Homo sapiens: one gene and its partners. The protein of the gene in region 1 interacts with the protein of each later gene in a pairwise test. Each region holds a gene or a part of one and is shown in the gene's direction. Other genes may lie near its edges. The genes, in order: YJU2, MAD1L1, ZNF143 and GOLGA6A.

Region 1 (7,243 bases):
CTCACTGAAAAAGAGGTTGGTTTTATAGACAGAAAAAGGCTGAGTAAAGCAGAAATAGAAAACAAAAAGTGGATTGGTCTTTTCAAAGTTACTTTTCTTGTCAAGTTTAGAGCAAAGGAGACTATCGTGCTGGCTAAAACAGGCCTGTTCAGGGATTTTTTTTTTTTTTTTTTTTTGAGACAGTCTCGCTCTGTCACCCAGGCTGGAGTGTAGTGGCACAATCTTGGCTCACTGCAGCCTCCACCTCCCGGGTTCAAGCGATTCTCCTGCCTCAGCCTCCCAAGTAGCTGGGACTACAGGCGTGTGCCACCCTGCCCAGCTAATCTTTGTATTTTTAGTAGAGACAGGGTTTCACCATGTTGGCCAGGATGGTCTCAATCTCCTGACCTCGTTATCCACCCGCCTCCCAAAGTGCAGGGATTACAGGCATGAGCCACAGTGCCTGGCCTTTTTTTTTTTTTTTTTGAGACAGAATCTGGTTCTGTTGCCTAGGCTGGAGTGCAGTGGCATGATCTGGGCTCACTGCAATCTCCGCCTCCCAGGTTCAAGCAATTCTCGTGAGTCAGCCTCCCAAGTAGCTGGGATTACAGGCACCCACCACCGCACCCCGCTAATTTTTTGTATTTTAGTGGAAACGGGGTTTCGCCATGTTGGCCAGGCTGGTCTTGAACTCCCGAGCTCAGGTGATCTGCCTGCCTCTGTTCATGGATTTGACTATTCCCTCTCTTTCTCTCTCTCCCTCTCTCTCTCTCTCTCCCCACTTCCTTCCAGTTCTCGATTTCTTGGAAAACCAGAAAAACAACTTAGTTTCAGCTTGGTGTAAAACTTCCGCATGAGGGACTTCATTTTGGTTTAGTCTTTTGGGCCTAGTGCAGGAGCTCAGTCCAAACCCATGGCTTCCTGTAAACTTTATTTAACACCATTCCTTGTCCCATATTATTGTCTTCCTGGTGCCAGGAAAAGGGGTCCCTAGCTGGGTGTGGTGGCTCACACCTGTAATCCCAGCACTTTGGGAGGCTGAGGTGGGTGGATCACCTCTTGAACACCTCAGGAGTTCAAGACCAGCCTGACCAACATGGAGAAACCCCGTCTCTACTAAAAATACAAAATTAGCCGGACGTGGTGGCACATGCTTTTAATCCCAGCTACTTGGGAGGCTGAGGTAGGAGAATAGCTTGAACCTGGGAGACGGAGGTTGCGGTGAGCCGAGATTGTACCATTGCACTCCAGCCCGGGCAACAAGAGCAAAACTCCTCAAAAAAAAAAAAAAAAAAAAAAAAAAAGGAAGGCTACTCAGTTACAAAGTAGGGCGTCCTCAGAAAACAAGAGGAGGAACGCCTTGTCTTTGTTTTAAGGTTTTTATTTTTATTTTATTTATTGATTTATTTTTGAGATGGAGTCTTGCTCTGTCACCCAGGTACAATGGCACGATCTTGGCACGATCTTGGCTCACTGCAACCTCCACCTGCCAGGTTCAAGCGATTCTCCTGCTTCAGTCTCCTGAGTAGTTGGGATTCAGGCATGTACCACTGCGCCCAGCTAATTTTTATATTTTTAGTAGAGACGAGGTTTTACCGTGTTGGCCAGGCTGGCCTTGAACTCCTGAGCTCAAGTGATCCTCCCACCTCGGCCTCCCAAAGTGTTGGGATTACAGGTGTGAGCCACCATGTACAACCGGTTTTTTCTTATATAGGGGTCTTATCTGTGTGAAAGCTATGTCCACGTGTAGGTGGGCTGACCGCGTGACAAAACGTAGTACTTTGTCGACTTAAAGAAAGTTATCCTGGCTGGGTGCAGTGGCTCACACCTGTAATTGTAACACTTTGGTAGGCCGAGGCCGGCAGATCACTTCAGCCCAGGATTTCCAGACCAGCTTGGGCAACATGGCGAAACCCTGTCTCTACAAAAACTGCCAAATATTAGCCAGGTGTGGTGGTACCTATAGTTCCAGCTAACTCGGAAGGCTGAGGTGGGGGATCGCCTGAGCCGGGAAGTGGAGGCCACAGAGAGCCATGATTGCGTTACTGCACTCCAGCCTAGGTGACAGAGCGAGACCCTGTCTCAAAAAGTATACATACATATCCTTGCCATTTTAGTGCCTAAGTACATTACACCATGACTATAACCATATTTTCTTTTTTTTTTTTTGAGATGGAGTTTCACTCTTGTCACCCAGGCTGGAGTGCAATGGCGCCATATCGACTCACCGCAACCTCTGCCTCCCAGGTTCAAGTGATTCTCCTGCCTCAGCCTCCCAAGCAGCTGGGATTACAGGCATGCACCACCATGCCCGGCTAATTTTGTATTTTTAGTAGAGACAAGATTTCTTCATGTTGGTCTGGTTGGTCTTGAACTCTCGACCTGCACCACCGCACCTGGCTAATTTTGCATTTTTAGTAGAGACGGGGTTTCTCCGTGTTGGTCTGATTGGTCTTGAACTCCTGACCTCAGGTGATTCGCCCACGTCGGCCTCCCAAAGTGCTGGGATTACAGGCGTAAGCCACCATGCCCGGTATCTTTTTCTTTTTTTTCTCTTTTTTTTTTTTTTTGAGATGGAGTCTCACTCTGTCGCCCAGGCCACAGGGCAGCGGCACAATCTCGATCTCAGTTCACTGCAACCTCAGCCTCCTGGGTTCATGCAATTCTCCTGCCTCAGCCTCCCAAGTAGCTGGGATTACAGGTTCCCGCCACCACGCCCGGCTAATTTTTGTATTTTTAGTAGAGATGGGGTTCCACCATGGTGGCCATGGTGACCAGGCTGGTCTCGAACTCCTGACCTCAGGTGATCCACCCTCCTTGGCCTCCCAAAGTGCTGGGATTACAGGCATGAGCCACCGCGCCTGGCGACTATAACGATCTTAAAAGCATACATTGCTATGCAATATCAGGACATCTGGACCTTCCATTGTTGTAGTAGTGTGTCCTCCTAGGCATTTGTAAGACGTTTTCTCAATTGTAAACATCTTATGACCCTGGCTCGTGACTGGCAGCGAATGTGCCTTGTTAATTTTAAGATGGAGTTGATTTTTGGCCAGGTGCAGTGGCTCATGCCTGTAATCCCAGCACTTTGGGAGGCAGAGGCGAGCAGATCACCTGAGGTCAGGAGTTCGAGACCTGCCTGGCCAAAATGGTGAAACCCCATCTCTACTAAAACTACAAAAATTAGGCAGGTGTGGTGGTGCGTGCCTGTAATCCCAGCTACTCGGGAGGTTGAGACAGGAGAATCACTTGAATCCTGAGGTGGAGGTTGCAGTGAGCCAAGATCGCACCACTGGAGGCAGAGGTTGCAGTGAGCCAAGATCGCACCACTGCCCGTCAGCCTGGGCAACAGAGCAAGACTCCTCAAAAGATAAATAAATAAACAAACAATTGCCACAGCAACATCAAGAAGTTACCCTATATGGTCTAAAAAAGGGAGGTATGAATAATCCACCCCTTGTTTAGCATATCATCAATAAATCACCATAAACATGGGCAACCACCAGCCCTTGGGGCTGCTTTGTCTGTGAAGTAGCCATTCTTTTATTCATCTACTTTCTAAATAAACTTGTTTTTGCTTTGCACTGTGGACTCGCCCTGAATTCCTTCTTGCACGAGATCCAAGAACCCTCTCCTGGGGTCTGGATCCGGACCCCTTTCCTGGAACAATCTGACACAGAGGAAACGTCCATGAAAGGTGGGGAGGAGGCTGGGGAAGGAGGCTGGGGAAGGAATGGGATGGGAAGTCCTCGTTAAGGGGAAGGCACAGGTGGGCAATGGAGGGACATTTGGGAGACACTGCGTATGTTTAGGAAGTTGGTTTGGAGCCTGATCTTTAAGTCAATGTCTGTGACTCAAGAGTCGTCCAGGGTCCTCTTAAGTCACCCTATGTGTGGCCCCAACCCCATGTGAGAGTTGCGGGCCCAGGAACGATGTGTGGATTCCCAGAGCCCAGAATACAAGGCAGGCGCATAATACATATTTGCTGAATAAAAGAATGAAGAACAAGAGGTCACGTTACAAAATTTTAACGAGCCGCTGCCCGCTTCTAGGGGGCGCAGCGCACTATACAAAATTCTCCAATTCCACATGGCTCCCGGAATCCTTATTTCGCGCTACTCAGGTTGCAACTCCGGAGGGAAGACGCTGGGACTTCCAGCTTGATAGGCGGGGATTGGAACCAATGAAAGAGGTCTGCTGTGTATGCTGCAGCCAATAATAGCGGCCGAAGGAAGTGACGTTTGCGGAAGTAAGGCTTCCGTCGGAAAAGCTCGATAATTACCCAGCCTAACCATTTCTCAGGTGCTTGCGAGGTGATCAGAAGGCAAAGATGTCGGAGCGAAAAGTATTAAACGTAAGTGTTGGGCGACTGGGGCTTTTCAATCGGAGCAGGACATCCCGGAACTCCGGGAGAGGGAGGAGCTTCCTGAGATCTCTTCTTTGGAACCCTTCTTTCCCAGCGGCCTTCCGCGAGATGGGGCTTCCCAGACTCCTCCCTAGACTCCTCCCCATCGCCTTCCGTCGGGGGGGTGGGCCTTCGCTAAGTCTCCCTTCTGGGCTGGGGTGTAGTTAGTCACCTGCGGGGCGTGGCTTGGGCTTTTACCCAATCACCACCAGATAGGGTTTTTTTTCTGGGGGCGGGGCTTCCTTAAATGCTGGCGGCCGTGTTTTGCCCTCTTCTTGAGGGGCGTGGCTCTGAGAAGCCCCGCCCCACTTGGGGACTGTAACCAATCGTGTACTTTGGGTGGGGTGGGGTGGGGTGGCGCGTGTGTGTGTGTGTGTGTGTGTGTGTGTGTGTGTGTGTGTGTGTGTGTGTGTGTGTGTGTGTGTGTGTGTGTGTGTGTGTGTGTGTGTGTGTGTGTGTGTGTGTGTGTGTGTGTGTTTTGTTTTTTTTACTGGGGTCTGGTCATGCAGATAACCTCTGCCTTACAGTGGCCAAGATTTTACTGGGGTCTGGTCATGCAGATAACCTCTGCCTGACAGTGGCCAAGATTCCAGACTCCCAGAAGAAAAGCAGAGGTTCAGTATAAACTATACTGTTGGCACACTTCTGTTTTTTGGTTTTTTGAGATGGAGTTTTGCGCTTGCTTCCCAGGCTGGAGTGCAGTGGCACGTTCTTGGCTCACTGCAGCTTCTGCCTCCTGGGTTCAAGCGATTCTCCTGCCTCAGCCTCCTGAGTAGCTGGGACTGCAGGCGCCCGCCACCATGCCTGGTTAATTTTTTTTGTATTTTAGTAGAGATGAGATTTCACCATGTTGCCCAGGGTGGTTTTGAACTCTTGATCTCAGGCATTCCACCCACCTCATACTCCCAAAGTGCTGGAATTACAGGCGTGAGCCACCGCGCCCGGCCCCACGCAGGTCTTTCTAGGAGAGCAGTCTCAGGCTTGCTGTAGGAACTCCTGGGAAACAGGAGCCCTGGGATACAAAGGGAGTGTGAGTATGGATTATGACAGATACCTCCACTGCACCACTGGAAAATAAAGCACTTTGTGTTTGGAGCACCTACTGGGTGCCAGACACTGCAAAGAGCACTTTATCCCCCTTGCCTCAAGGAATGCGTGCAAAGACTCTTGGAGACAGAGGACAGTGTGCGCATTTCACAGAGGAGTAAACTGAGCCCTGCAGGTTTCAGCTCCTCAGGATTCAGATCCAGGGAGATGACTCTGTAGGAAACGGATGTAGTATCGTGATTGGGAGGCTGAGCTAACAGAGTCCTGGTTTACCCTCTACAGAATTGCTGGGGAGTTGGGACTCCTCGGGGAACTCGGTCTCCTGCCTGAACAACAGAAGTGCTAAGCAAAGCTTAACCTCTACAAAGGGCAGGGCATGATGGCTCACGTGTGTAATACCAGCTCTTTGGGAGGCCAAGGCAGGTGGATCACCTGAGGTCAGGAGTTCGAGACTAGCCTGGCCAACATGGTGAAACCCCATCTCTACTAAAAATACAAAAATTAGCGGGGAGTGGTGGTGGGCGCCTGTAATCCCAGCTACTGTAGAGGCTGAGGCAGGAGAATCGCTTGAACCCAGGAGGCGGAGGTTGCAGTGAGCCAAGATCGCGCCACTGGACTCCAGCCTGGGCAACAAGAGCAAAACTCCGTCTCAGAACAAAAACAAAAACAAACCCTGGCTTTTTAGAGCTTCCCGTGTAGACAGCATTTCATGTGTATTGTCATGACTGGTATTTAGGAGAATTAAATGCGTCCTGTATAACTCCACTAGGAGAGAGTCAGGAAGCTTGTGCCTGGCCTCCCTCTGACTGTACTGAGTCCTGCGAGTCCTCCCTGCCTGTCGCGGAACCTGGGGTGGGCTTGGGGACCCCCGACACAGCTCCCCAGAGCCCCTTCCCTCTGCCATGTCCTGCCCCTGCTTCTGAAAATAACTCCCCCAACGTTTCCTTCCTCCCCTGCAGAAATACTACCCGCCGGACTTTGACCCATCAAAGATCCCCAAACTCAAGCTCCCCAAAGACCGGCAGTACGTGGTGCGGCTGATGGCCCCCTTCAACATGAGGTGAGCACCCCCTGCGTGACCCCACACACCAGTCATGGCTGAAGGACGCAGTGCCTGGCATCCACAGAGGTGACTCGTCCGGTGTTAAGACCAGATCACTGGTCTTAGACATTGTCCTGGCTCAGACATTGACCATTCCAACCCTCCTTCGCCTCACCACTTGGGATTAAGCTTTGGATCTTTTAGAGCCCTCCAGCCAGTGCCTGCCTTGAGATCATGGTGGTTAGTAAACGTGTGTGCAGAGAGGATAGGACGCCACAGAGATGCAGCCCCATAGATATATTTCAGCTCCTCCAACAGCCAAGCTCGTTCCTACCCCAGGGCCTTTGCACACACTGCTGCCCCTGCTTGGAACTCTCTCCCTCTACTTTCTTTCTTTCTTTTTTTTTTTTTGTTGAGACAGAGTCTTGCCGTGTTGCCCAGGCTGGAGTGCAGTGGCGTGATCTCAGCTCACTGCAACCTCCACCTCCTGGCTTCAAGCGATTCTCCTGCCTCAGCCTCCCAAGTAGCTGGGATTACAGGCGTGCACCACCACGCCCGGCTAATTTTTGTATTTTCAGTAGAGTTGGTGTTTTACCATGTTGGCCAAGCTGGTCTCGAACTCCTGACCTCAGGTGATCTGCCCTCCTTGGCCTCCCAAAGTGCTGGGATTGCAGGCGTGAGCTGCCGCACCTGGCCTTCTCCTTCTACTTACACATGGCAGGCTCCTCTTGTCTGCCATAGGTCATGGCTCCAATCTCACCCCTCCGGGA
Region 2 (7,023 bases), on another chromosome or scaffold:
ATGGTGCCACAGCGGGGGTGCCAACGCTGGGGCTGGGTCCCAGGTCCCGTCCTGGTTCTGCCTATGACTTGGCTCATGGGTCCTGCTCGGCTCTTTTTTGTGCCTCGGCATGTTCTGAGAGAGGTGTGGGGGTGAGGGCTCCCCGCTGACCCTCCCGTGGGCGGCACGTGGCATCTGACTCTTGCTCTCTTAACAGCGTGAGGTCGACCGCAACCAGGAGCTCCTGACGCGCATCCGGCAGCTTCAGGAGCGGGAGGCCGGGGCGGAGGAGAAGATGCAGGAGCAGCTGGAGCGCAACAGGCAGTGTCAGCAGAACTTGGATGCTGCCAGCAAGAGGCTGCGTGAGAAAGAGGACAGTCTGGCCCAGGCTGGCGAGGTGAGCGGGGCCTCTGCTGCGCAGGGAGCTGTTTTCCCGAGGAGAGGGAGTGCATGCTCTTGTTTGCCACTGCAGTGCCCGCTTGTGTTTTCACTTGTGCTTCCCACACGGGCAGCTGCGTTTTGTACATAGTTGTCATCAGTAGAAGTATTAATTTTCCATTCTGTAGTTTTCAGTTAAAAAGTTGAGACTTTGGGCCGGGCGCGGTGGCTCACGCCTGTAATCCCAGCACTTTGGGAGGCCGAGGTGGGTGTATCATCTGAGGTTGGGAGTTGGAGACCAGCCTGACCAACATGGTGAAACCCCATCTCTACTAAAAATACAAAAATTAGCCATGCGTGGTGGTGCGCACCTGTAGTCCCAGCCTGTGGGACTCGGGAGGCTGAGGCAGGAGAATCGCTTGAACCCAGGAGGTGGAGGTTGCAGTGAGCTCAGATCACACCATTGCACTCCAGCCTGGGCAACACAGCAAGACTCTGTCTCAAAAAAAAAAAAAAAAGTTAAGCACTTTTTTGCCTTTGTAATTATGAATTTAAATGGATGATGAATCTGTTTTTTGTTGTTTGTGGACGTTTAGTGTGTTTGTGTTCGCTCATGTATGTATGCGACAGGTAGCCCTTCCCTCAGCCCTCGCTTCTGTTGACTTTGGACAGACCCCTAGGACTGGGTTATAAGGTCCCTAGCGATGGCGGTCTCTGCAGCCGTTGTGCTCAGAGGCCTGGCTGAGGGCTCCAATTTCCCCGTAGCCTTCCCTGTCGTGGATGGTGGTCTTTTCTGGAAATAGCTGTTGTTTTGTCAGGAGGCTTAAGGAGGCACGTCTGGATTTGCATATCTTTGACTGTCTGCAAGGTCTACAGGCATCTGATGGCGTCGGATAATTGCCTCTGAACTGGAGCCTGTGTGAACTGCAGTCCTGGTGAAGGTTGCTTGCATTTTAGAAACAGCCCAGACATGGGCACTGGTGGAAATTGGAATCTTCTGACCTCTCCTGTCCTTTGTCTGTGGCGATCAAGATCGCTGGTGCCAAGAGGAAACATGAAAATCTGCTGGTGTGGGGGTGGAGGCGTGGTAGGGGTGGGGTGGGCGTGCAGCGGGGGTCCTGGAGGGGTCCAGAAACTGGCCGCGGGTCCTTCCTGTGGCCGTGCTGGGGAGGCGTGTTCAGGCTGTTCCCCTATCTGCTTCTGGAGGGAACGTTGGCAGGAGAGGAGGCGTGATTGGCTCCCGAGAAGCTGCTCTTGCCTTGCCCATGCTCTGGGTTCCAGTTCCCATGTGCTGGGCTGTACTGGAGTTGGGCCGGGGGCTGTCCCCGCTGCCTGCGGGCACCTGTGGTTCCATGGGGGAGGGTGAGTCGTGCCGAGCACTTCATGAGGGGCAGAGGAGCAGGAGACTGCAGGAGCCGCAGGGCGGTGCCCGGTGGGGTGGGGCATAGTGAGGGGAAGATGGTGGCGCTGCAGGTGCTGCTGCTTTGGCCTGTCATGTCTAAGCCGAGGTGGCCGCTCCTCAGGGAAGCCCTCCCTGCGCACTAGGCCTTGACTGCCTTCTCCTGTCACAGGGTCCTGATTGTCACGCTCCTTACTCTGGAATTATCTTATGCGCCTCTTCCTTGCCAACTGTCCGGCGTCCCCTACAACACGGGTGACCCTGTGGGCAGGTGGGCTCGGCCCTGCATCTGGCCTTGCCCCTGGCACACGGTGCGTATTAATTGAGTTCGGAAGACCTCTGGGAGGATGTGTTTATTGTTAGTATGTTTTTAATACCTTTCTTCTTTGTTGACTCCCAGGTTGATGCTTCACTGTTGTGGTGAAGTAAACCGTACATATTGTGGGCATGTGGGGAGCACGCAGCCCCCATGCGGGCCTTCCCAGAGCGGCGTGGGGTGGACAGCGGTGATAGGCTTCAGCAGGCCCTAAGCTGGGCACGTTCTCAGGGACAGGGAAATGAGTGCTGAGGCCTCCTTGTTTGCGGAGGGTGCCGCCCAGCCAGGCCCACCCAGGTCGTTTGCTGTGTGAGTTTGCCATTGTCCTGTCCTGGGTGCGTGGTCCCCAGGGCTGACATCACGCCCGTGTGTTTCCGTGTGTTAACTTACAGTGATGCTTCTCAGGGTCTGTCCGGCTTTTCACATTGGCTCGACCCACGTGCTCTTTCTTTCTCTGAGGACACCTGGGGTTTTCTGAGCTTTTCCAGAGGGTTAGGGTCCTCAGAAGGTCGCCTGGTGGGAGTGGTCAGGAGGAAGCCTGGCGGTTCTGTCGCGTGCGGGTTCCATGATGTCAGGCAGACCTGCTGTCCTGGAGGCTGCCAGAGGGGCTGCTGGCTTTGCTCAGGGGCCGCCTCCCCAGGGGCGCTCCTGCCCGTGCCGCGTGCTCCCGTTCCAAGCGCACGGCCTCCCCAGCAGGTACCGCCCTGCCCCTTGCACAGCCTCCGTCTTTGTCCTGTTGGTTGGCCAGTGCCTTGCTGTGGTGTGAGGGCGATGTCGCTAGCAAACAGCCGTCATGGTAGCATTGGGGTGGCTAGGGAGGGATGACAGGAGCCACGGTTGGAGGGAAGACCGAAGTGATGGTGTGGCGGGTATGTGGATGTCTGATGGGACTTTGGGAGCGTGGGGCACTGGCACAGAGACTGCCAGGTGCCAGGCCTGAGAGTCCGGGCCCATCTTGGCTGGTGGAGGCTTTTGCTTCTGAAGCCGCCTCACCAAGCCTCCTTTCCAGGGCCCCTGGCTGGGGCCCGGTCTCCTCTGTCAGCTCCTGGGTGGCTTGTGGCAGGCTCTGGGCTGTGCTGCTCTGGAGCACCAGGAGGAGGGTGGGCCCTGCGTGTGAGCGTCTGCCTGACCTGCATCCTCCAGAAGGAGGTGGCTCTGCCCCCTGGCCCTCTGCTCCCCTGCTCCTCTTCCCCCTGCCCTCTGCCCCCCTTGCCCCCTTGCCATCTGCCCCCCTACCGCTCTGCCCCCCTACCCCTCTGCCCGATGCCCCTCTGCCCCCTTATTCCTCTGCCCCTCTGCCTCCTGCCCTGATTATAGCACGTGGGTGGTGTCGCCTCTCCACTCTTCTCATCTCCATGTGCAGGCTCCTTCCACGCACGGGCTCCACTCACTGAGCGGCTCTCTGGTCCCCTCTACTTTTAGACCATCAACGCACTGAAGGGGAGGATCTCGGAACTGCAGTGGAGCGTGATGGACCAGGAGATGCGGGTGAAGCGCCTGGAGTCGGAGAAGCAGGAGCTGCAGGAGCAGCTGGACCTGCAACACAAGTGGGCGGGGCCAGGGTGTGGGGTCGGGGGTCGGGTCACGTGTGGGGGCATGCGTCCCACCTCTCTCCTGGTGGCTGGGTGGGATGTGGATACACTCCCAGATGCTGTCCTAATTCACAGACACTCAAGAGGGGCAGATGCTGAGGCCTCTGGAGCCAGGACCGTGAGCCCAGAAAGTGTCCTGATGTTCCTGGAGCAGAATGGGGGCAGCAACTTCCTCCCCCTCCTTCTTAGAGAGGGCTCCTGCAGAGCCAGATTTTACTTTATTTTTTGAGACAGGGTCTCACTCTGTCGTCCAGCCTGGAGTGCAATGGTGTAATCATGGCTCACTGTAGCCTCAACCTCCTGGGCTCAAGTGATCCTCCTGCCTTAGCCTCCCGAGTAACTGGGTCTGCAAGCATGTGCAGTACACCTGGCTAATTTTTTTTTTTTTGAGATTGAGTCTCGCTGTGTCACCCAGGCTGGAGTGCAGTGGCACCATCTCGGCTCACTGCAGCCTCCGCCTCCTGGGTTCAGTGATTCTCCTGCCTCGGCCTCCTGAGTAGCTGGGATTAGTTTTGCACCTGGCTAATTTTAAAAAACGTTTTGTAGAGATGGCGGTCTCGCTTTGTAACCCAGGCTGGTCTTGAGCTCCTGGCCTCAAGCGATCCTCCTGCCTCAGCCTCCTAGAGTGCTGGGATCCCAGGCTGAGCCGCCGTACCCTGCTGAGGGCTAGGTTGAAAGGGCAGCATCATGTGCCTTGGAGGTGGAGGGGGCGTGGCTGGGAAGGGATGTCCAGGCACAGGGCTGAGCCGAGGCACAGACGTGAGAGCCTTGTCTGGAGGTGCAGTCAGGAGACTGTGGGCATCTCCTGCAGACTTGGACCCTTCCATCAGCAGATGTGGTTTTAGGAGAGTTCTAGTTCCGTAGTAGAGAGGAGAGGTCATTCCTGGGTGGGGCCCTACCGCAGCTGCACCAGGGCTGGGGGTTGCCGCAGGCAGGTGAGAGCTGTGGGTTCCACTGTTGGAGAGGTCCTTGCAGGTGGCCTGGGCTCACTACGCACCCCGTCTGAATGAGCAGACTGAGGCCTGAGAGCCAGCCCACAGGGGCTGGGGCCTGGGACCTTGGGGTACCCATGCAGTGGAGTGTGTGTTGGCGGGGGGCGGGGGGTCTGTGCCGTGGGAGGTCCTGAACCTTGGGGTGGGAATGAACGTATGTGGGTCTGTGCTGGGGCGGGTCTCAGGCTGAGGAGAATTGTTGGCCTTGCCGCATGCCTGTTTCTGTGTGTGATGTATTTTTCTTTCAATAGAAAATGCCAGGAAGCCAATCAGAAAATCCAGGAACTCCAGGCCAGCCAAGAAGCAAGAGCAGACCACGAGCAGCAGATTAAGGTGAGTCACTCCCTGTCAGTGCCTTGTGGACATCCCTGTGGTGGCCTTGACTCTCCTGCCCCTGTCGGCCTTTCTGCGCTGGTGCCGAGCTCCGTGGTCCTTCTGTGAGGTTAGCTGCTGCCCTGTGTGTTGGGCACTGTGCTGGGCACCAGGGATGCCATGGTGAATGAGGCAGATGCTTCCGCTCTTGGGAGCGTGTATTCTAGAGGAGGGAGACTGACCACAAACACCAAGAGAAAATGTCCGTGTGTGTGATGACGTCAAGTGCTGATGAGCGTGAGAAGATGCTACAGGCATAGAGAGGTTGAGAAAGCTGCCCACAGTTGCACAGCTGGAGCTGGGTCTCAGTCAGGGCATCTGACTCAAGCTCAGGCTGTGCCATTTCCCTGCGGAGGACGTGCCAGGGAGACGTTGACTCCAGATCCCTCTCCTGCCTCCTGTTGCCTGGAGAGCAGCCTCCAGACCCTGTGCTCTGGCCGTGCCCTCTCAGCCCTTATGCACCCTCACCTCCAGGCTTCACACCAGCTCTTCCTGGCTGCAGAGCTGCCCGGCACCCCCAGCCTGGCCTCTGCCATGTCCGCTCCTGGTGGTGGTCCCTGGCCCCTCGCAGCCCTCAGTCCACCTCTCAGGATTTTCTGGCTGGCAGGGCGATGGACTCTGTTAGTGTTTGTTGAATGACCGTCTGGTTTGGTCGTGGTTTCATACTCTGCCTGTTCAGTGACTTGCTGCTCACAGATGCCAGCTGTCTGTGTCCCAAGGGGACTGGGTACCGTAGGGAAAAGCCTGTCCTCACTATTGGAAAGACTGAGCTGTCACACGTGCTGCTAGAGTGGCAGAAGTGGGCTTGACACGGGAGGGGTGGGATGTTTTACCATGGAGTGCCATCCTGGACCAGACTTGAGACAGACTTTTGCTCCTGGAGAGCTCCCCGAGGGCAGGTGGTGAGCACAGCAGCCCGGCAGTGTGCAGTGTGAATGCCAGCTCCCAGTACGCGGAGGGCTGGGAGGTCGGCGCTGGGAAGAGCTGCCCTGGAGTGGATGCTGAGGCTCAGTATTGGAAGCAGCTTCGAGGCCCCTGGTGCAGCCCAGGAAGGCCTCCCACAGGAGAGTCCTGAGGCATGGAGGCTGCTGAGGACCTGGGGCAGTTTAGCGAAGGAACTTTGTGACCTCAATGACTTTAATTTTTAATGGATGGTATTTTCTAGAGCAATTTTAGGTTCACAGCAAAATGAGCAGAAGGTAAAGCTCCTGTGTACCCCCTGCGCCCGCTCCTACACACACAGCCTACCCTGGTAGAGTGGAGCACGTGTGACGGTGATGAACCTGCCTGGACACATCAGTGTCACGCAGAGTCCACGGGTCATGCGAGGGTCACTCTTGGAGTGGGACAGTGTATGGTTCGGGCAGATGTAAAATGTTCTATATTTGCCATTAGAGTGTCACACAGAAAAGTTTTACTGCCTAAAAATCCTCTCTGCTCCCCCAGTCAATCCCTGCCTCTCTCCTTCTGAGCCCTTGACAACCCCTTCCTTTCCCAGAACGTCCTGTGGTTGGATCCTGCAGTGTGTATAGCCGTTGCAGACCGGCTTCCTTCTCTTAGCCGTGTGCGTGTGATTTTCTCCAGGTCTCTTCGTGGCTCATTTTTCCCTTCTTCTCTGTCCCTGGCCTCCATCAGGATCTGGAGCAGAAGCTGTCCCTGCAAGAGCAGGATGCAGCGATTGTGAAGAACATGAAGTCTGAGCTGGTACGGCTCCCTAGGCTGGAACGGGAGCTGAAGCAGCTGCGGGAGGAGAGCGCGCACCTGCGGTGAGGGGTTGCGGGGGATGGGGCAGCCGCCTCGAGTGAGTCTGGGTTTGTGCACATGGAGCCCACTGTGCAGACCCTGTAGGGGCAGGGCTCCCGGGCTCTTGGCCTTATCCCTAGGGTGTGTGGCTATTTGAGCGACTCTTTGTGGCACTGCCAGGGAGATGAGAGAGACCAACGGGCTGCTCCAGGAAGAGCTGGAAGGGCTGCAGAGGAAGCTGGGGCGCCAGGA
Region 3 (7,023 bases), on another chromosome or scaffold:
TGGATGGGCTGGGAAAACATTATTTTTCCCATTTAAATTAATGGAATATAGATAGAGCTTGGCGCAGTAGTAGCTCATGCCTGTAATCCCAGCACTTTGGGAGGCCAAGGTGGGTGGATCACTTGAGGTCAGGAGTTCAAAACCAGCCTGGCCAACATGGCGAAACCAATTCTCTACCAAAAAATACAAAAGTTAGCTGGGTGTGGTGGCAGCTGCCTGTAATCCCAGCTACTCAGGAGGCTGAGGCAGGATAATCACTTGAATCCAGGAGGTGGAGGTTGCAGTGAGTCGAGATCACACCATTGCACTTCCAGCATGGGTGACAGAGCGAGACTCCGTCTCAAAAAGAAAAGAAAAAAGCAATGGAATACAGACTAATTATCTGAAAGCTAGCCATTCAACACATTTTATGGGCAAATTAGCATTCAATAAGAGAGATGCCTACATTAAGTTTGGCCATACTGATGTCTTTGGAACATTTAGGTAGAGCAGTGCTCTCAAATGAGTCTGCATATTGGATGTATCTCTTTAAAATAGACTGATTGCCCAGATCCTGTCTGCAAAGATTCTGACATAATTGTACTGGGGTGAGGCCCAGGCATCAGGGTGTATTTAAAGCTCCCCAGGTCTTTTAGTAGACTGTTTTGAGAATAATTGAAGTAGAGAGAGTATGCAGTTATAAATGTTGGTCTGACCTAAGAGGTGGGTCTGGGCTGGAAGAAAAGATTGGCTAATGATCAGGTAATTGCTACAATAACTGGTCACAATATCCAGTAGAGTAAAGATTCAGACCTGTGAAATGCAGTCCTTTTTTCTTTTCTTTTTCTTTTTTTTTCTTTGCAAGGCTCGTCAGATGACCCAGGTGAAGCTATGTAACTAGCCAGTAAGGGAGCTCAAAAGCTCAATCCAAATCCATTCGCCTCTTGGCTGTGGTTTGGTGCCACCTAGTGGCAGTTTCTGCTCTAGCCTAAATATCAATTGGGCTGATTTTTCCAAGTTGAAATTGGCTGCCCTTTCTCTTGCCCTCACCACATCTCAGCAACTATCCACCAAAATAAGAACATTAACCTGCCTGCTTTGGGAATGGGAACTGGGCAGAGGACAGGAAGAAATCGCCAATTACTTTATGTGTAAGACTTATGTTACGGTACATTAGTGTGGTATCTTATTTTTGGGGGGGTTTACTGTGTTTAGAACCACTGCGAAAGGTGCAGTTACCCAAGGAATGTGTCGAATGAGAATAAACCAGGACATGCATATGTATACACACTTTCATATGTACATTTTAAAAATCTGAGTTCACACCAATACCTCCAATTCCATTTCACCACAGGGTTCTTTTTGTTTTTCTTCCCCCATTCCATATTTGTATTCTCCTTTTTCCACAGCTGGAGCCCTTCCAGCAGCATTTGAAATATTTACTCATTTGCTCAGTCTTTTATTCCATCTAAAATAGTTTCAGAATCCCTTCACCCATACCACTACAGTAAACAAGCCTACTACAAATGAGCTGAATATTTGTTTGCAATTCTTCCCCTCACTCTCGCCACTGAGCCCAAGACTGAGGGCATAAGTCAAATACTGTGTAAATGAGCTACTTTAATTAATTTATTTGTTCCCCCACCCCAGCCCCTTCAGTGTAGTTAAAAGTATTCATTTAAACAATTAGGTTAATTTGTTCCAGTTTGCTTTCAGTTTTAGGTCCCTACACCACCACATGTTAGCACTGTCTAGATATTTTGTGATATTAAGTAATTATTATTAATTTTGTTTACATATTTTTTAAACTGGGACCCATCTTTTTGGTATACAGCCTGAAAGAAAAAGAATGTTACCTGCAACTGTTTCGGAATAATCCTGGTCGGGAAGAAGGGGGAAATGGGTAGTAAATATAAGAAACAATATTGGTCATGAACTGATAGTTGAAGCTGGATGATTGGTACATGGGGAACTGTTTCTCTATACTTTTGTGTATATTTGAAATTTTCTGTAGTAAAAAGTTCTAAAAATATGTGTACTGCCTATAATGTTCTCAAGCTGTTTCATGGGACAAAAATTAAAGTATTTACTTCCCTATGTATTGCCTGCTTGCTATTAGTGAATACTCAGTAGCTTTTGATTGGATGTAAGAAGTCAGGTTAAGTTAAATGAAACATGTTTGTCCTTTTAGTTGTATTGACATATCTAACTAGGTTTAATAGACTTTTAAAGACAATCCTTTTTTATTATCTTTATGAAATTCTTAGGAAGCTGCATAAGTTACGATAATAGCATTTATTATTATTAATAGACTATAACAGTATCTAGATTATCTAATTATGGGAAACAAATTACAGTTTCATTAAAGTTAGAGTTAAACTGGGCAACATCTCCATCCTTTTCTCATTCCTTGAGATTAAGGAGAACCTGGTGTTGATGCATGGAGACAGCACTAAGGATCATACTACCTTTTGAGTCAAGTCAAAACCATAGTTAGGGAATCTTTTCTTGTGTGCTGCCTCATGGTGGGATGAGGAGGGGTTTGGCAATTCTTTATTTTTAGAGGTATTTTACCCCCTGGGGGGGAAGTATGGAATGATTTTGCCTACATATGTAAAAGTTGAACTTTTTTTTGGTGTTGCTCTTTAGGAGAAAAGCCATATGTTTGTACAGTTCCTGGGTGTGACAAAAGGTTTACAGAATATTCCAGTTTGTACAAACATCATGTTGTCCACACTCATTCCAAACCTTACAACTGTAACCACTGTGGGAAGACATACAAGCAGATCTCCACGCTGGCCATGCACAAACGGACAGCCCACAACGACACTGAGCCCATCGAGGAGGAGCAGGAAGCCTTCTTTGAGCCGCCCCCAGGTGAGAGTTTTGTCTACTATATTTTGTTTCTGAGTTTGAGAATCAACAGTTATGAACATAATTTATGATTCATAGCATTTTCTGAAATCCTAATGTGTCATTCGTATAATCACATAAACATAATTTACAGCTGCAGTAAGTGCTATTGAAGAAAAGTATGTGGTACTCTGGGATGTATAGAAGGGAATGTTAGTTTGGGAGGTCAAGGAAGGGATTTTTGGAGAGATCTTGAGGTTGAATAGGGGTTAACTGGGTGAAGAAGCAGAGGTTGCTGGGAAGGGAAGCAGGAAGCAAAGGCAAGAGAATGTTCCAAATAGAGAGAATGGCACATGCAGAAAGCCAGGAGGTTGGAGAGACCAAAGTAAATTGGAGATACTGAATGAAGCCTGGCCAGTTAGGGCAGTTCTGCCTGGGAAGGTGATATGAAACAAGGCTGGAGAGCGAGGCAGGGGCAGCCAGCCTGTTTGGGTCCATTAAGCATGTTGGTCTTAATCGTAACACTAGAGAAGTACTCCCAAATAACTCTTCATTGATTCAGGTGCTATTAAGTATGTTATTGTAAGAGACAAAATTATTTGTTTCAGTAAACCCTTGGAAAAATATTTTAGAGAATTACATTGAATTATTTCAGATAAATAAGCATAGGTAAGTAGGTAAAAGGAAGTCGGTTTTTCTAAAACACAAAACAAAGCAAGTTGTCTTACAGTTTCATTGAGTACCTCCTAAATGAAGTAAATTTGAAAATTAAGAGAAGACATCTTTTTTCATTTTTAACAACATATATTGAAGCATTGAAAAACATTTAGGTGGAAAAGGTTTGTTGGAGAGTAAGGGAAAGAACAGATCATCTGCTCAGATGATTCCTTGTAGTCCTGATTTGTCTTTTCAGGTATTTGTTAGGTGGTGGTAGGTTAATAGCAATTCCATCAGTCTTCATGGTGATTATTTTCTAGCCAGAACACTGTAAGTGTGCATGGTTAAATATTACATCAATTGGGGAGATACTGGTCAAAGAGTACAGTTTCAGTTAGGAGGAATAAGTTCTGGAGATCTGCACAGCATGTGACTACAGTTAATAATAATGTACTGTATATTTGACAATTGCTAAGAGAAAGGAAGTAAATAAGAAGATCCTACAACAACTGCTGAGTCTTTTTAGTTAGAAAGCAGGCTTTAATGATATCAGACTTAAGTTTGCAAGACTCTTTTTCTAAGCTTCCTCAAGTCTCTTCCTTAAATGTTGATATTTCAGGTTATCAGAAGTTCCTATATTCTTTTTTTTTTTTTTTTATTTTTGAGATGGAGTCTCGCTCTGTTGCCCAGGCTGGAGTGCAGTGGTGCGATCTCGGCTCACTGCAAGCTTCGCCTCCCGGGTTCATTCCATTCTCCTGCCTCAGCTTCCTGAGTAGCTGGGACTACAGGCGCCCGCCACCATGCCTGGCTAATTTTTTGTGTTTTTAATAGAGACGGGGTTTCACCGTGTTAGCCAGGATGGTCTCGATCTCCTGACCTCGTGATCCGCCCACCTCGGCCTCCCAAAGTGCTGGGATTACAGGCGTGAGCCACCGTACCCAGCCCAGAAGTTCCTATATTCTAGAAAATAGTCTATAATATAATAATATACATTTTATTTAAAAACAAAACTAAACTAAGATTGTTTTTCCAAGAATAGGGATGGATTTCTGTTTTCTCTCACATGATCCACTGGGTTTTGTAACCTGTTGGAATAATGGTATATAAATAGCTGTGGAACAGAACAAAAAGGAATGAAGTAATGTCTGTCATGGAAATTACACGTTGATGACTGTAGCCATATGAGTGCATGGATTAACCACTGAATTGAGAAGTACTCTTAGATTAGCATATTATGTCCTTTGAGGGGGAAACATTTTTTTTTTGCTCTCTTTCTGACTTCATGGGAGGTAGAAAGTGATGAAAGACGAGAGGGACCAGGAATCTTCCTGGTTGACAATTATAGTAGTAATGGATTGTTGAAATTGCTGTTTACTTACTGGTTCTTTATGAAATAAAGAAGTGATGGAGGTTCCTTTTATGTCACTAAATTATTAACCATACCTCAGATAATATGCCATACATTGTCTTTACACAGTGAGGTCATTGTGTACTGATGGTTTGCAATCAATCAGTTGTGCTAAAGACCAAGTTTAGTATCAGTGGGTGTGTTTGCAAACCATTCTGGCTTTGTGGTTAATGTTTATGAAAATGAAAATAGTCTTAACCACTTTTAACAGCTTCTTTTTTTTTTTTTTTTTTTTTTTTTGAGACGGAGTTTCGCCCTTGTTGCCCAGGCTGGAGTGCAATGGTGCCATCTCGGCTCACCACAAGCCCTGCCTCCCGGGTTCAAGTGATTTCTCCTGCCTCAGCCTCCTGAGTAGCTGGTATTACAGGCATGCTCCACCAGGCCCGCCTAATTTTGTGTTTTTGTTTGTTTGTTTGTTTTTGTTATTGAGACAGAGTCTTGCTCTGTCGCCCAGGCTGGAGTGCAGTGGTGCAATCTCGGCTCACTGCAAGCTCCGCCTCCTAGGTTCACACCATTCTCCTGCCTCAGCCCCCTGAGTAGCTGGGACTACAGGCGCCTGCCACCATGCCCGGCTATTTTTTTTTTTTTTGTATTTTTAGTAGAAATGGGTTTCACCGTGTTAGCCAGGATGGTCTCGATCTCCTGACCTCATGATCCGCCCGCCTTGGCCTCCCAAAGTGCTGGGATTACAGGTGTGAGCCACCATACCCGGCCTTGGTTTTGTATTTTTAATAGAGACGTGGTTTCTCCATGTTGGTCAGACTGGTCGCGAACTCCCAACCTCAGGTGATCTGCCCACCTTGGCTTCCCAAAGTACTGACTGGGATTACAGGTGTGAGCCACTGTGCCTGGCCTTTAACAGCTTTTTTTTTTTTTTTTTTTGAGACGGAGTCTTGCTCTGTCGCCCAGGCTGGACTGCAGTGGCGTGATCTCGGCTCACTGCAACCTCTGCCTCCCGGGTTCATGCCATTCTCCTGCCTCAGCCTCCCGAGCAGCTGGGACTACAGGCGCCCGCCACCATGACCAGCTAATTTTTTGTATTTTTAGTAGAGACGGGGTTTCACTGTGTTAGCCAGGATGGTCTCGATCTCCTGACCTCGTGATCCACCCACCTCAGCCTCCCAAAGTCCTGGGATTACAGGCATGAGCCACCGTGCCTGGCCTAACAGCCTCTTAAGTGAATGCGAGAATTTAGTGCATACTTGCTGTATTTGAAGGGTTATTTGCTAGTTTTCCTGTACAGTTCCTCCCCTCTCCGCCCCTAATACACATATAGTATCAAGTAATTACTCCAACTAAGAGAATAAAACAGGTCCCTGAAAATCAGAACACTTAAATTTGATGCAGAAAGATTTTTTGTTTGGTCTGCTTTGATGTAGTTTGCCTTTGCAAAAGTGGAGGTGGAGGAATTGGAAGGAGGTCCTGGAAGCCATTTTCGTGACTTAGAATATAATACATGTACATTTTAATTATGTAATTTTCTCTTTAATATTTAAAATGTCCTATTTTCTAAACAAATTGGTTGGTTGGTCAAATAAATGATTCATTTGTTTTAAACAGGTCAAGGTGAAGATGTTCTTAAAGGGTCCCAGATTACGTATGTTACAGGTGTAGAAGGGGACGACGTTGTTTCTACACAAGTAGCCACAGTAACCCAATCTGGACTGAGTCAACAAGTTACACTCATATCCCAGGATGGGACTCAGCATGTAAGTATCCACCAAAAGCCAAACAAATTAAATCTTTCTGTGAACCTGGGCTTGAAAGGCAGGCTGGGTCCCCATTGAGGAAAGCTTTGAAATATCAGGGCACAAAGTTTGGAAACCCTGAGGTTTTTCAGTAGTCTGCTTACAGAGACTACGTGCAGAGAGATTAGGAGAGAGAGAAGGTTTGTGACTGTAGAATCCGAATGGTATTCTTGGTGTAGTTCAAAGGTGAGATGATAAAGGTCAGCCACAGAGAGGCTCAGGGCTTCAAAAGTACTGGATCCATGTGAAACACAGATCAGAAAAGGGATAGGATTTGGTGGCTGATTAGATGCAGGAGGTGAGATTGAGAAAACAGAGATTTGGCTGAGGTGATCAGCATATGATGGCACCATTAAGAGATCAGGAATCATGAGAGTT
Region 4 (7,444 bases), on another chromosome or scaffold:
ATAACTAACTACCAAGTAATGATTATTTGGGAAAAGAAGAAAAGCAAAACCAGCTTGTAAACACTTCTGGAACGTGGGTAAGGGGCCAAAGTCAAGACCTTCTGGGCCCAGTGCAGGTGCTAGGCTTGCCTCGGGACACCATCAGCACTTCCCCATCCACAACATCCTCAACAGCTGGGAGCCATGTGCAGACCCCAGGGGGCTTCCTGTTCCACAAGCTCCCCTCTCTTTTTCCTCTCCACCCTTGCTGTTGGGCCTCCCTTCCAAATCTGCCTAACAAAGGCAGCAGGATCTTTAATACTGTTCAGCTTTGTCAATGGAGACAGGATACTCTAGAAAGTTGAGAGATTCCCTGGTCCAGTCTGGGGGAGGAAAAAATATGCAGTGTAGCATAGATGGTTGTACTTGTCCACTCAGACACATGCTCATACTTATTAGATGGATGTATCAGATGCTTCAAAAGTCCTGATGTGTAGTAGCACAAAAGCTGCTTGTAAAAAGGAAGTTGCAAAATGATAAAAATTTCTGCAGCAGTTCAGGCTCCTGATGACAAAGCTGGTTCTGATAAGTAGTTCTTTTGACATGCACAGCAGGTTTCACTGTAAGTCCTGTGTTCCAGCGGTTTCATTTAGACCACGGGAAGTTGAAAGCAAAGTTTAAATGTTCTCTGCTGACAAAATGTGGTATATATCCATCAATGGACTTCTACTCAGTAATGAAAGGAACAAACTACCAAAACCTGTTATATGTCATGGACCAACCTCAAAAACCTTAGCTAAGTAAAAAGCCAGACATGTGACCACATATTGTATAATTCTGTTGATTTGAAATGTCCAAAAAAGGCAAGTTGATAGAGACAGAAATGGTCTGATTTACCTCAAGAAGTAGGGATTCAAGCTCTTAGGGTACATGTGATACATACATTAGAAGAAATAAGGAAAAGAAAAGAAATTTATATGTAAATAAATGAAAATAATACTTCTCCCTGATTATAAAGAAAATTGCATTCTTTTTGTAATAATTTGGAAGACAAAATATGAAGAAAAGTCTTTAATTTTGCCACTGAAAGCATTCTGGTTTGTTGCTTTTTATATTTTTTTATGCATATGAACATTTTAAAAAGTAGAATCGTAATATATAGTCTTTTGTCACTATGTTTTGGGCATATTTCTATGGCAGTAAATATATCCTTGGCATCATCTTTTTAAAAGCTCGATGTGTATTAAGTTAATCATTGCCACCCCAGAAGTAAATTTTCTTATATATATATTTTAATGGACGCAAGCAAGCATTTTGGGGCTGAAGTCATAGAAGTAGAATTTCTGGAGAAAAATAACATAAAATAGTTTTAAGATTTTTAATAGAAATTTTCAAATTATCCTGCAGAAAAATTGGTTCAGTTTATACTCCCAACAGGGGCAGAGCTCCAGTATCCCGTTTCCATTTGTCCTCTTTGCTGATATTTAAGGAGAAAATCTCATTGTTTTCATTGTATTTCTTTGGTTTCTAGTGCTTTTGAAACTTTTTTTTTTTTTTGAGATGGAGTCTTGCTCTATGGCTCAGGCTGGTGTGCAACAGTGCAATCTCGGATAACTGCAACCTCTGCCTCCTGGGTTCAAGCGATTCTCCTGCCTCAGCTTCCCGAGTAGCTGGGATTACAGGTGCCCACCGCCATGCCTGGCTAATTTTTGTATTTTTTAGTAGAGATGGGATTTCACCATGTTGGTCAGGCCCGTCTCAAACTCTTGACCTCAGGTGATCCACCCACCTCGGCCTCCTAAAGTGCTGGGATTACAGGCGTGAGCCACGGCCCTGGCCTTGAATCATTTTTATGTGCTTATTGGCCATTTTTATTCTTGTGGGAAGTGCCTGTTTCTCCATTGCCTATTTTCTGGCCAAGCTCCCAAGTCACATTTCACTTAATTTTTATCCTGCTGATTGAAAGCATTTTAACATAAACAGGAGCAGGACAGACTGTAATTATCTAGATCTTGCTCTGTCACCCAGGCTGGAGTGCAGTGGCATGATCATAGCTACCACAGCGTCGTACTCCTGAGCTGAAGCAGTTTTCATACATCAGCCTTCCAAGTAGCTAGGACTACAGGTGTGTGCCACCACCCCCAGCTAATTTTTAAGATTTTTTGTAGAGATGTGAATTCACTATGCTGCCCAGGCTGGTCTTGAACTCCTGACTTAAAGTGATCCTCCCACCTTGGCTTGCCAAAGTGTTGGGATTACAGGTGTGAACTACTGCTCCTGGCCGAGGGCTCATTTTGTTTGCTAGTGGTGATATTGGTATCTGTTTATATTTGAGGCTTTGGTGCTAGTGCTGAAGTATTACACTCACCATCCGAGGTTTGCAGGACTTTTGTTTTAATATTGAATAGATGGAACTGTTTACTTCTGCATCTTTGCAGGCATACAAAATGTGCCTACCAGGACTCTGCTTTATATCTATTGAAAGCAAGAAGTAATACAGTAAAACTTTGCCTGGCTAGAGGCTTTGGAAGAATGGAGTATTCTGATTTAATGCTATTGAAGTGTGAAGGTGAAAAGAATGAAAAACTTACATTTCCTGTTGAATGCAACTTGAAAATACAGCCAGTGATTCCACTTTTCTTCTCTAGTAAGTTTGGACATTCTGATCTACTTGGTGTTTTATTATAGAACTGCTAGTGTGCCCGAGACTTACATTGTGAAGACACTTTTTAAAAAACCTGAGAGGGAAGAGGGTGTAAATGGTATTGTGTGAGATCAGGCTGGATGAGAACTGACACTTGTAAACATACTTTTTAGGCTGAATCTCTGATTGCCGTTTGTTTTCTTATTTAACTCATAAAAATAAAACACATTGGATGGAGGGTGGGAGCAGGAAGGAGATTTATGTCTTTTAATTGCATGCCATTGTTTCATATCAAGACAGAACATATGGTATCCCTGGCTTTGGACCTACAGAAGGAAACACATTTTTCTGCCTGCTGTATGCCAGAGGTTCTTGAACACCTGGAGGGATGACTGCAGCACAGATTGCTGAGCCCTACTCCAGAGTTTCTGATTCACCATGTCCAGGGTGGGGCCTGAGAATTTGCACTTATAAAAGGTTCTCAGGTTCTGCTGCTGCTGCTAGTCCAGAGACTACATTTTTGAGAACCACTCTTGTCTACTAACTGTAAATTGTAGAACTCTAGAACAAAGCTTAGTTTGGTGTAGGAAAAGACGCTCACAGGTTATGGAGCAAATCATGAAAGATTCAACCCTTGATCCCAGCCTAGTGTGGAATTCAGGTAACAATCAATACACAGTGACATAACACAATTCTTGGTTTTCATGATTGCAAGTCATAGCCAAGTATCAAGTGAGAAATTCAGTTTCATTTGCAAGGCTTAGAGAGGCCAGGTGATTCTAGAAAAATAGGCCTTGTATTTGCTTTAAACCAGTAAAGAGCTTTGAGTGCTTATTAAATGGAAAGCTTTGTGTTTTTATTTATTTTTGACTATTTTATTTTATTTTTTTGAGATGGAGTCTCAGTCTGTCACCCAGGCTGGAGTGCAGTGGCGTGACCTTGGCTCACTGCAACTTCCGCCTCCCGGGTTCAAGTGATTCTCCTGCCTCAGCCTCCCCAGTAGCTGGGATTACGGGTACCCACCACCACACCTGGCTAGTTTTTGTATTTCGAGTAGAGACAGGGTTTCACCATGTTGGCCAGGCTGGTCTTGAACTCCTGACCTAAGGTGATCCACCCACCTAGGCCTCCCAAAGTGCTGGGATTACAGGTGTGAGCCACCACACCCGGCCCAAAAGCTTTGTGTTTTTAAAGATATTAGACATGTTTCTTGTTTTTTAAAAAATCTTAATAATGTAGGAGAATAAGAGAAATGTTTTTTCCAAAGCCGAGAAATCATTGTGATTATTTTACCTTATTGGGATGTTGGATAATATAGTCCACTTCATTCATTAATCATCAAACATGCTATGGATTTTCCATTTTTATAGGATTTGTGTCTTAACTGGGGTAATACTGGTAATTCTTATACTCCCTCTGAAGATGAAAAATGTAGGCCAAAATCATAGACCATGCATAGAAGCTGGATAATGAAGACAGCTCTGGAGGAACATGTAGACACACACACACTGACACACATATATATAAAGTATAAATACATATTTTTTTAAAGTTTATTTTTAACATTTTAAAGCAAAAACCAGCCCTCCCCTCTCCCGGAGTAGGCAGGCCCCGCCCCTCTCCCCAAGTGGGCAGGGACAGCAGTCGCATGGGCAGCTTTCCTTGTGATGTCACAGGTTCCTCTGGGCACACTGCTGCCTGGCCACGCCTCCTTTCCCTTTCATCTTTCTCATTGACCAATGGGATTGGAGCATTAAGGCCACACCCCTATTCTGCATTCTAGTGTGGCCCTGGTTACGCCTCCTCTGGCTCAGTCACACAGCAGCCTTGTAGGTGACTGGAGGTGTTCGCTGATGTGGCCCCAACCCTACCTCCCTCCCCACCCCATGATGTTAGAAGAATCTCGACAGAATAAATTGGCAGCAGCCAAGAAAAAGGTAAAAAGCCAAGAAAAAGGTCATGGCCCCCCAACCTAGCCAGAGATCCCCTCTGATGACAAGACCACTCCCAGAGTCCATACCACTCCTGAGGCACACCGGGCTGGGCCCCCCTACCCCGGCGCCTCTGGACTCCCCCCACCAACGTCTTGTCAGTCAGCCCCGCCCCTTCAGCAAGCAGCCCAGCCTCTGCCCTCGCCAATCACCCTGCGGTGACTTTGGGCGGATGACTACTGGGGATACCTGCTCCATATTCAGCCCTCACGTCCTGCCACCCCAAGCCCAACCTCCCTGGGTTCTTTGGGCTCACCTCTCCAAGGACCTGGGTCCCCCAGCCCCAACCCCCCAGCATCGCCAGTCATCCCGGGGTGACTTTGGGCTGGTGACTCCTGGGGTTCCCTGAGCAGACTCTGCTCTCCCCTCCTGCTGACCCAAGCCCGACCTCCCTGGGCTCTCTGGACTGGCATCTCCAAGGACCTGGGTCCCAGCCCCACGTCCCCCCTCCCCCATCGTGGATCGGCAACTCAGCCATTGCACTGATGAGGTTTCCCCCACCCCCAGGAGGAGTGGAATGTAGTGATGTCACAGTCCTCCTAGGAACTGTCATTACTGCTGCAAGACCGGCCTTTGATCTTATAACCCAGTCCCCTAAGCATTCTCACCCCATTTCTGGTTCCTCTGGTCACAGCACAAATTTCCAGCTAGAAGGGAAATGGGGACCATGGGACCTAGGAGCAAGAGGTTTCAGGCTGCCTTACTCCCTTCACATAGACATCGACAGTGTGAAAAGCCTACACTTCCCCTGTGAGCTCAAAACGTTGACAGTATCTCTGGGTGGTAATGGGAGAATGGGTTTGGTTTGGTTTTCTCCCAGGCTTCTACTCTCCAGAGAGACTTTAACATTTTTTTCCGAGTTCTCCACCTCATATTCTAATTCTCCACGGTTCTGGGACCAGACTGCCCTTCAGTCAGTGGTCTCTGAAGTGAGATTTGCTCATCTTCTGTGGAATAGGTCTTGGGAAACTGAACTTGACAGCTTGAATCTTCCTCATATCATCTCAACTTAGGGTACATTGAGTGCCACAGGATAAATGTGGGAGATCTTTCTGAAGCATCAGTTTCCCTTGATTCTCTTGAGAGAGAAAAAACATTAATGTACTTAGGGGTGACCCTCACATAGGTTTCTAAGAGTATACCAGACTTCTCTCTGAAATGAGACTTGGGTTGTCCTCTTTCTGATAAATTCCCAGATTTAACAAAAAAGCTGCCTTCTGCCATGAGGACACATTGATATAAAAGTTTGAGAGATACTGGTGCACTTCTTCACACTAACAGGCATTTGAGGATGTATGACTCTAAACCACACAGCGTGTAGTTCATGCCTATGTAATGTTTACTTTTCTACCTCTGCGTCTGGTTTTGGTCCCCGGCAGCTGCTGATTCATGGCAAAACCCCAGAGCTTGGAGTCAGAAGACTGAGTTTAAGTTCCATTATTGCCCCCCCACACTTTTTTTTTTAGCCATAATATCCATCCCTCTCAGTCACTTAAGTGATTGTGACAACACCTTGTACAGTTGTTGGTGGCATTAAATCAGATGGTGTATAAGAGTATTTTGCAAAAACTGTAAGGAGGGTGTGGCTGTAAGGGCTGGTAGTTCTCATGAGTATTACTGCTCTTCTTTCCCACAGCTAAAAGAATATCAGCAAAGGAAGAGCCCTGGTATTCCAGCAGGAGCAAAGACAAAAAAGAAAAAAACTGACAGTAGCCCTGAGACAACCACTTCCGGTGGTTGCCACTCACCTGGGGATGTGAGTCTTGGCTGGCCAGGCTCCTGGGGACAGGGGGCCCAAGGGGCAGTAGAGGGTAATTGTTGAGATTGCTGGGTACTGGTTAAGAATTCTGGGTTTGAATCCTGCTTCTTCATCTGCTAGCGATCTGATTTATGGCAAGTTGCTTGAGCTCTTTGGGCCTCTCTTTTCACATCTGTAAAATAGGGGTAGTATTGTTTGACTTCCATTTGTGAAGTTTAAATGAGATTCCTTATTGTTGTTGTTTTCATGTTAACCCCCAGTACGTGGCCTGCTGTAAACACCCAGGATACCCAGGAAATGGTCATTGCTGTTTGATTTTCCTGATCCCCACTCGCAAGGGGAAGCTGGGCTAATGAGTACAGCCACTTGCCATCAGGCTGTCCCTCTAGGAGTCACTGAAGGGGGCCCAGGGTGTGGTGAGGAGAGCCCAAGGCACTAGGAGCAAGAGAAGGTCTAACTTGCCACCAGCTTGCTGGGTGACCACAGAAAAATCACTTCTTCTGCTGGGCCTCAGTTTCCTCCTCTGTAAGATGATACTGGATAAGATCAGTGTCTTTCAAACTTGTTTTTTAGCTGAAGTCCCCTTAGTTCAAGTGAACTCTTACTCAGGAGTCTGTTTTTTTTTAATGGAGGTGGAGGTCTGGAGCTCTACCAGATTCATCGCCCATGTCCTGGGCCTGAGGAGAGGGGTCCAGTGAGCGTATTAAGATCTGCATTGGTCAGCTGACTCCACTCTGTGACTGCGTCACTCGGGGGACTTTTCCATCTATTTTTTCCTGCCCCTGGCAAGGCAGCAGGTGGCCATTTGGAAGAATGGCACAGGCCATGGTTTTAATCTCCTCTGCTCTTCTTCAGCGTTTCCTTTTCCTGAACCCACATCTTCCTCCTACCCTGACTTTCTTGCTTCTCTCTAAGCCACTTCTGTCTTTCACCCCCTGCCCTTGTTTTTCCCTTGTCACCTCCTGTAGATTCAGGACATTCTGAAGGTGCGGGTGTCCAACCTTAACCACTCCAATGGGGTAGTGCTCCCCCATTGGACAAGTGGAAGGTGAGGCAGTGCCAAGACCCCTC

Evidence for each region.
Region 2: the proteins of YJU2 (region 1) and MAD1L1 interact in binary tests that used the Homo sapiens proteins (3 or more experiments, as listed by UniProt).
Region 3: the proteins of YJU2 (region 1) and ZNF143 interact in binary tests that used the Homo sapiens proteins (3 or more experiments, as listed by UniProt).
Region 4: the proteins of YJU2 (region 1) and GOLGA6A interact in binary tests that used the Homo sapiens proteins (3 or more experiments, as listed by UniProt).

The regions. Positions count from the first base shown.
Region 1 is NC_000019.10:4,242,838-4,250,080, forward strand, and holds the start of YJU2 (splicing factor YJU2), read left to right. Parts: upstream 1-4,242; 5' UTR 4,243-4,309; coding exon 4,310-4,333; intron 4,334-6,390; coding exon 6,391-6,491; intron 6,492-7,243.
Region 2 is NC_000007.14:2,215,928-2,222,950, reverse strand, and holds part of MAD1L1 (mitotic spindle assembly checkpoint protein MAD1), read left to right. Parts: intron 1-196; coding exon 197-376; intron 377-1,928; coding exon of another isoform or gene 1,929-2,067; intron 2,068-3,494; coding exon 3,495-3,619; intron 3,620-4,907; coding exon 4,908-4,989; intron 4,990-6,663; coding exon 6,664-6,794; intron 6,795-6,951; coding exon 6,952-7,023. UniProt on the Homo sapiens protein: Component of the spindle-assembly checkpoint that prevents the onset of anaphase until all chromosomes are properly aligned at the metaphase plate.
Region 3 is NC_000011.10:9,505,991-9,513,013, forward strand, and holds part of ZNF143 (zinc finger protein 143), read left to right. Parts: intron 1-2,628; coding exon 2,629-2,856; intron 2,857-6,457; coding exon 6,458-6,606; intron 6,607-7,023. UniProt on the Homo sapiens protein: Transcriptional activator. Activates the gene for selenocysteine tRNA (tRNAsec). Binds to the SPH motif of small nuclear RNA (snRNA) gene promoters. Participates in efficient U6 RNA polymerase III transcription via its interaction with CHD8.
Region 4 is NC_000015.10:74,079,542-74,086,985, reverse strand, and holds the start of GOLGA6A (golgin subfamily A member 6A), read left to right. Parts: upstream 1-4,435; 5' UTR 4,436-4,476; coding exon 4,477-4,560; intron 4,561-6,250; coding exon 6,251-6,370; intron 6,371-7,444.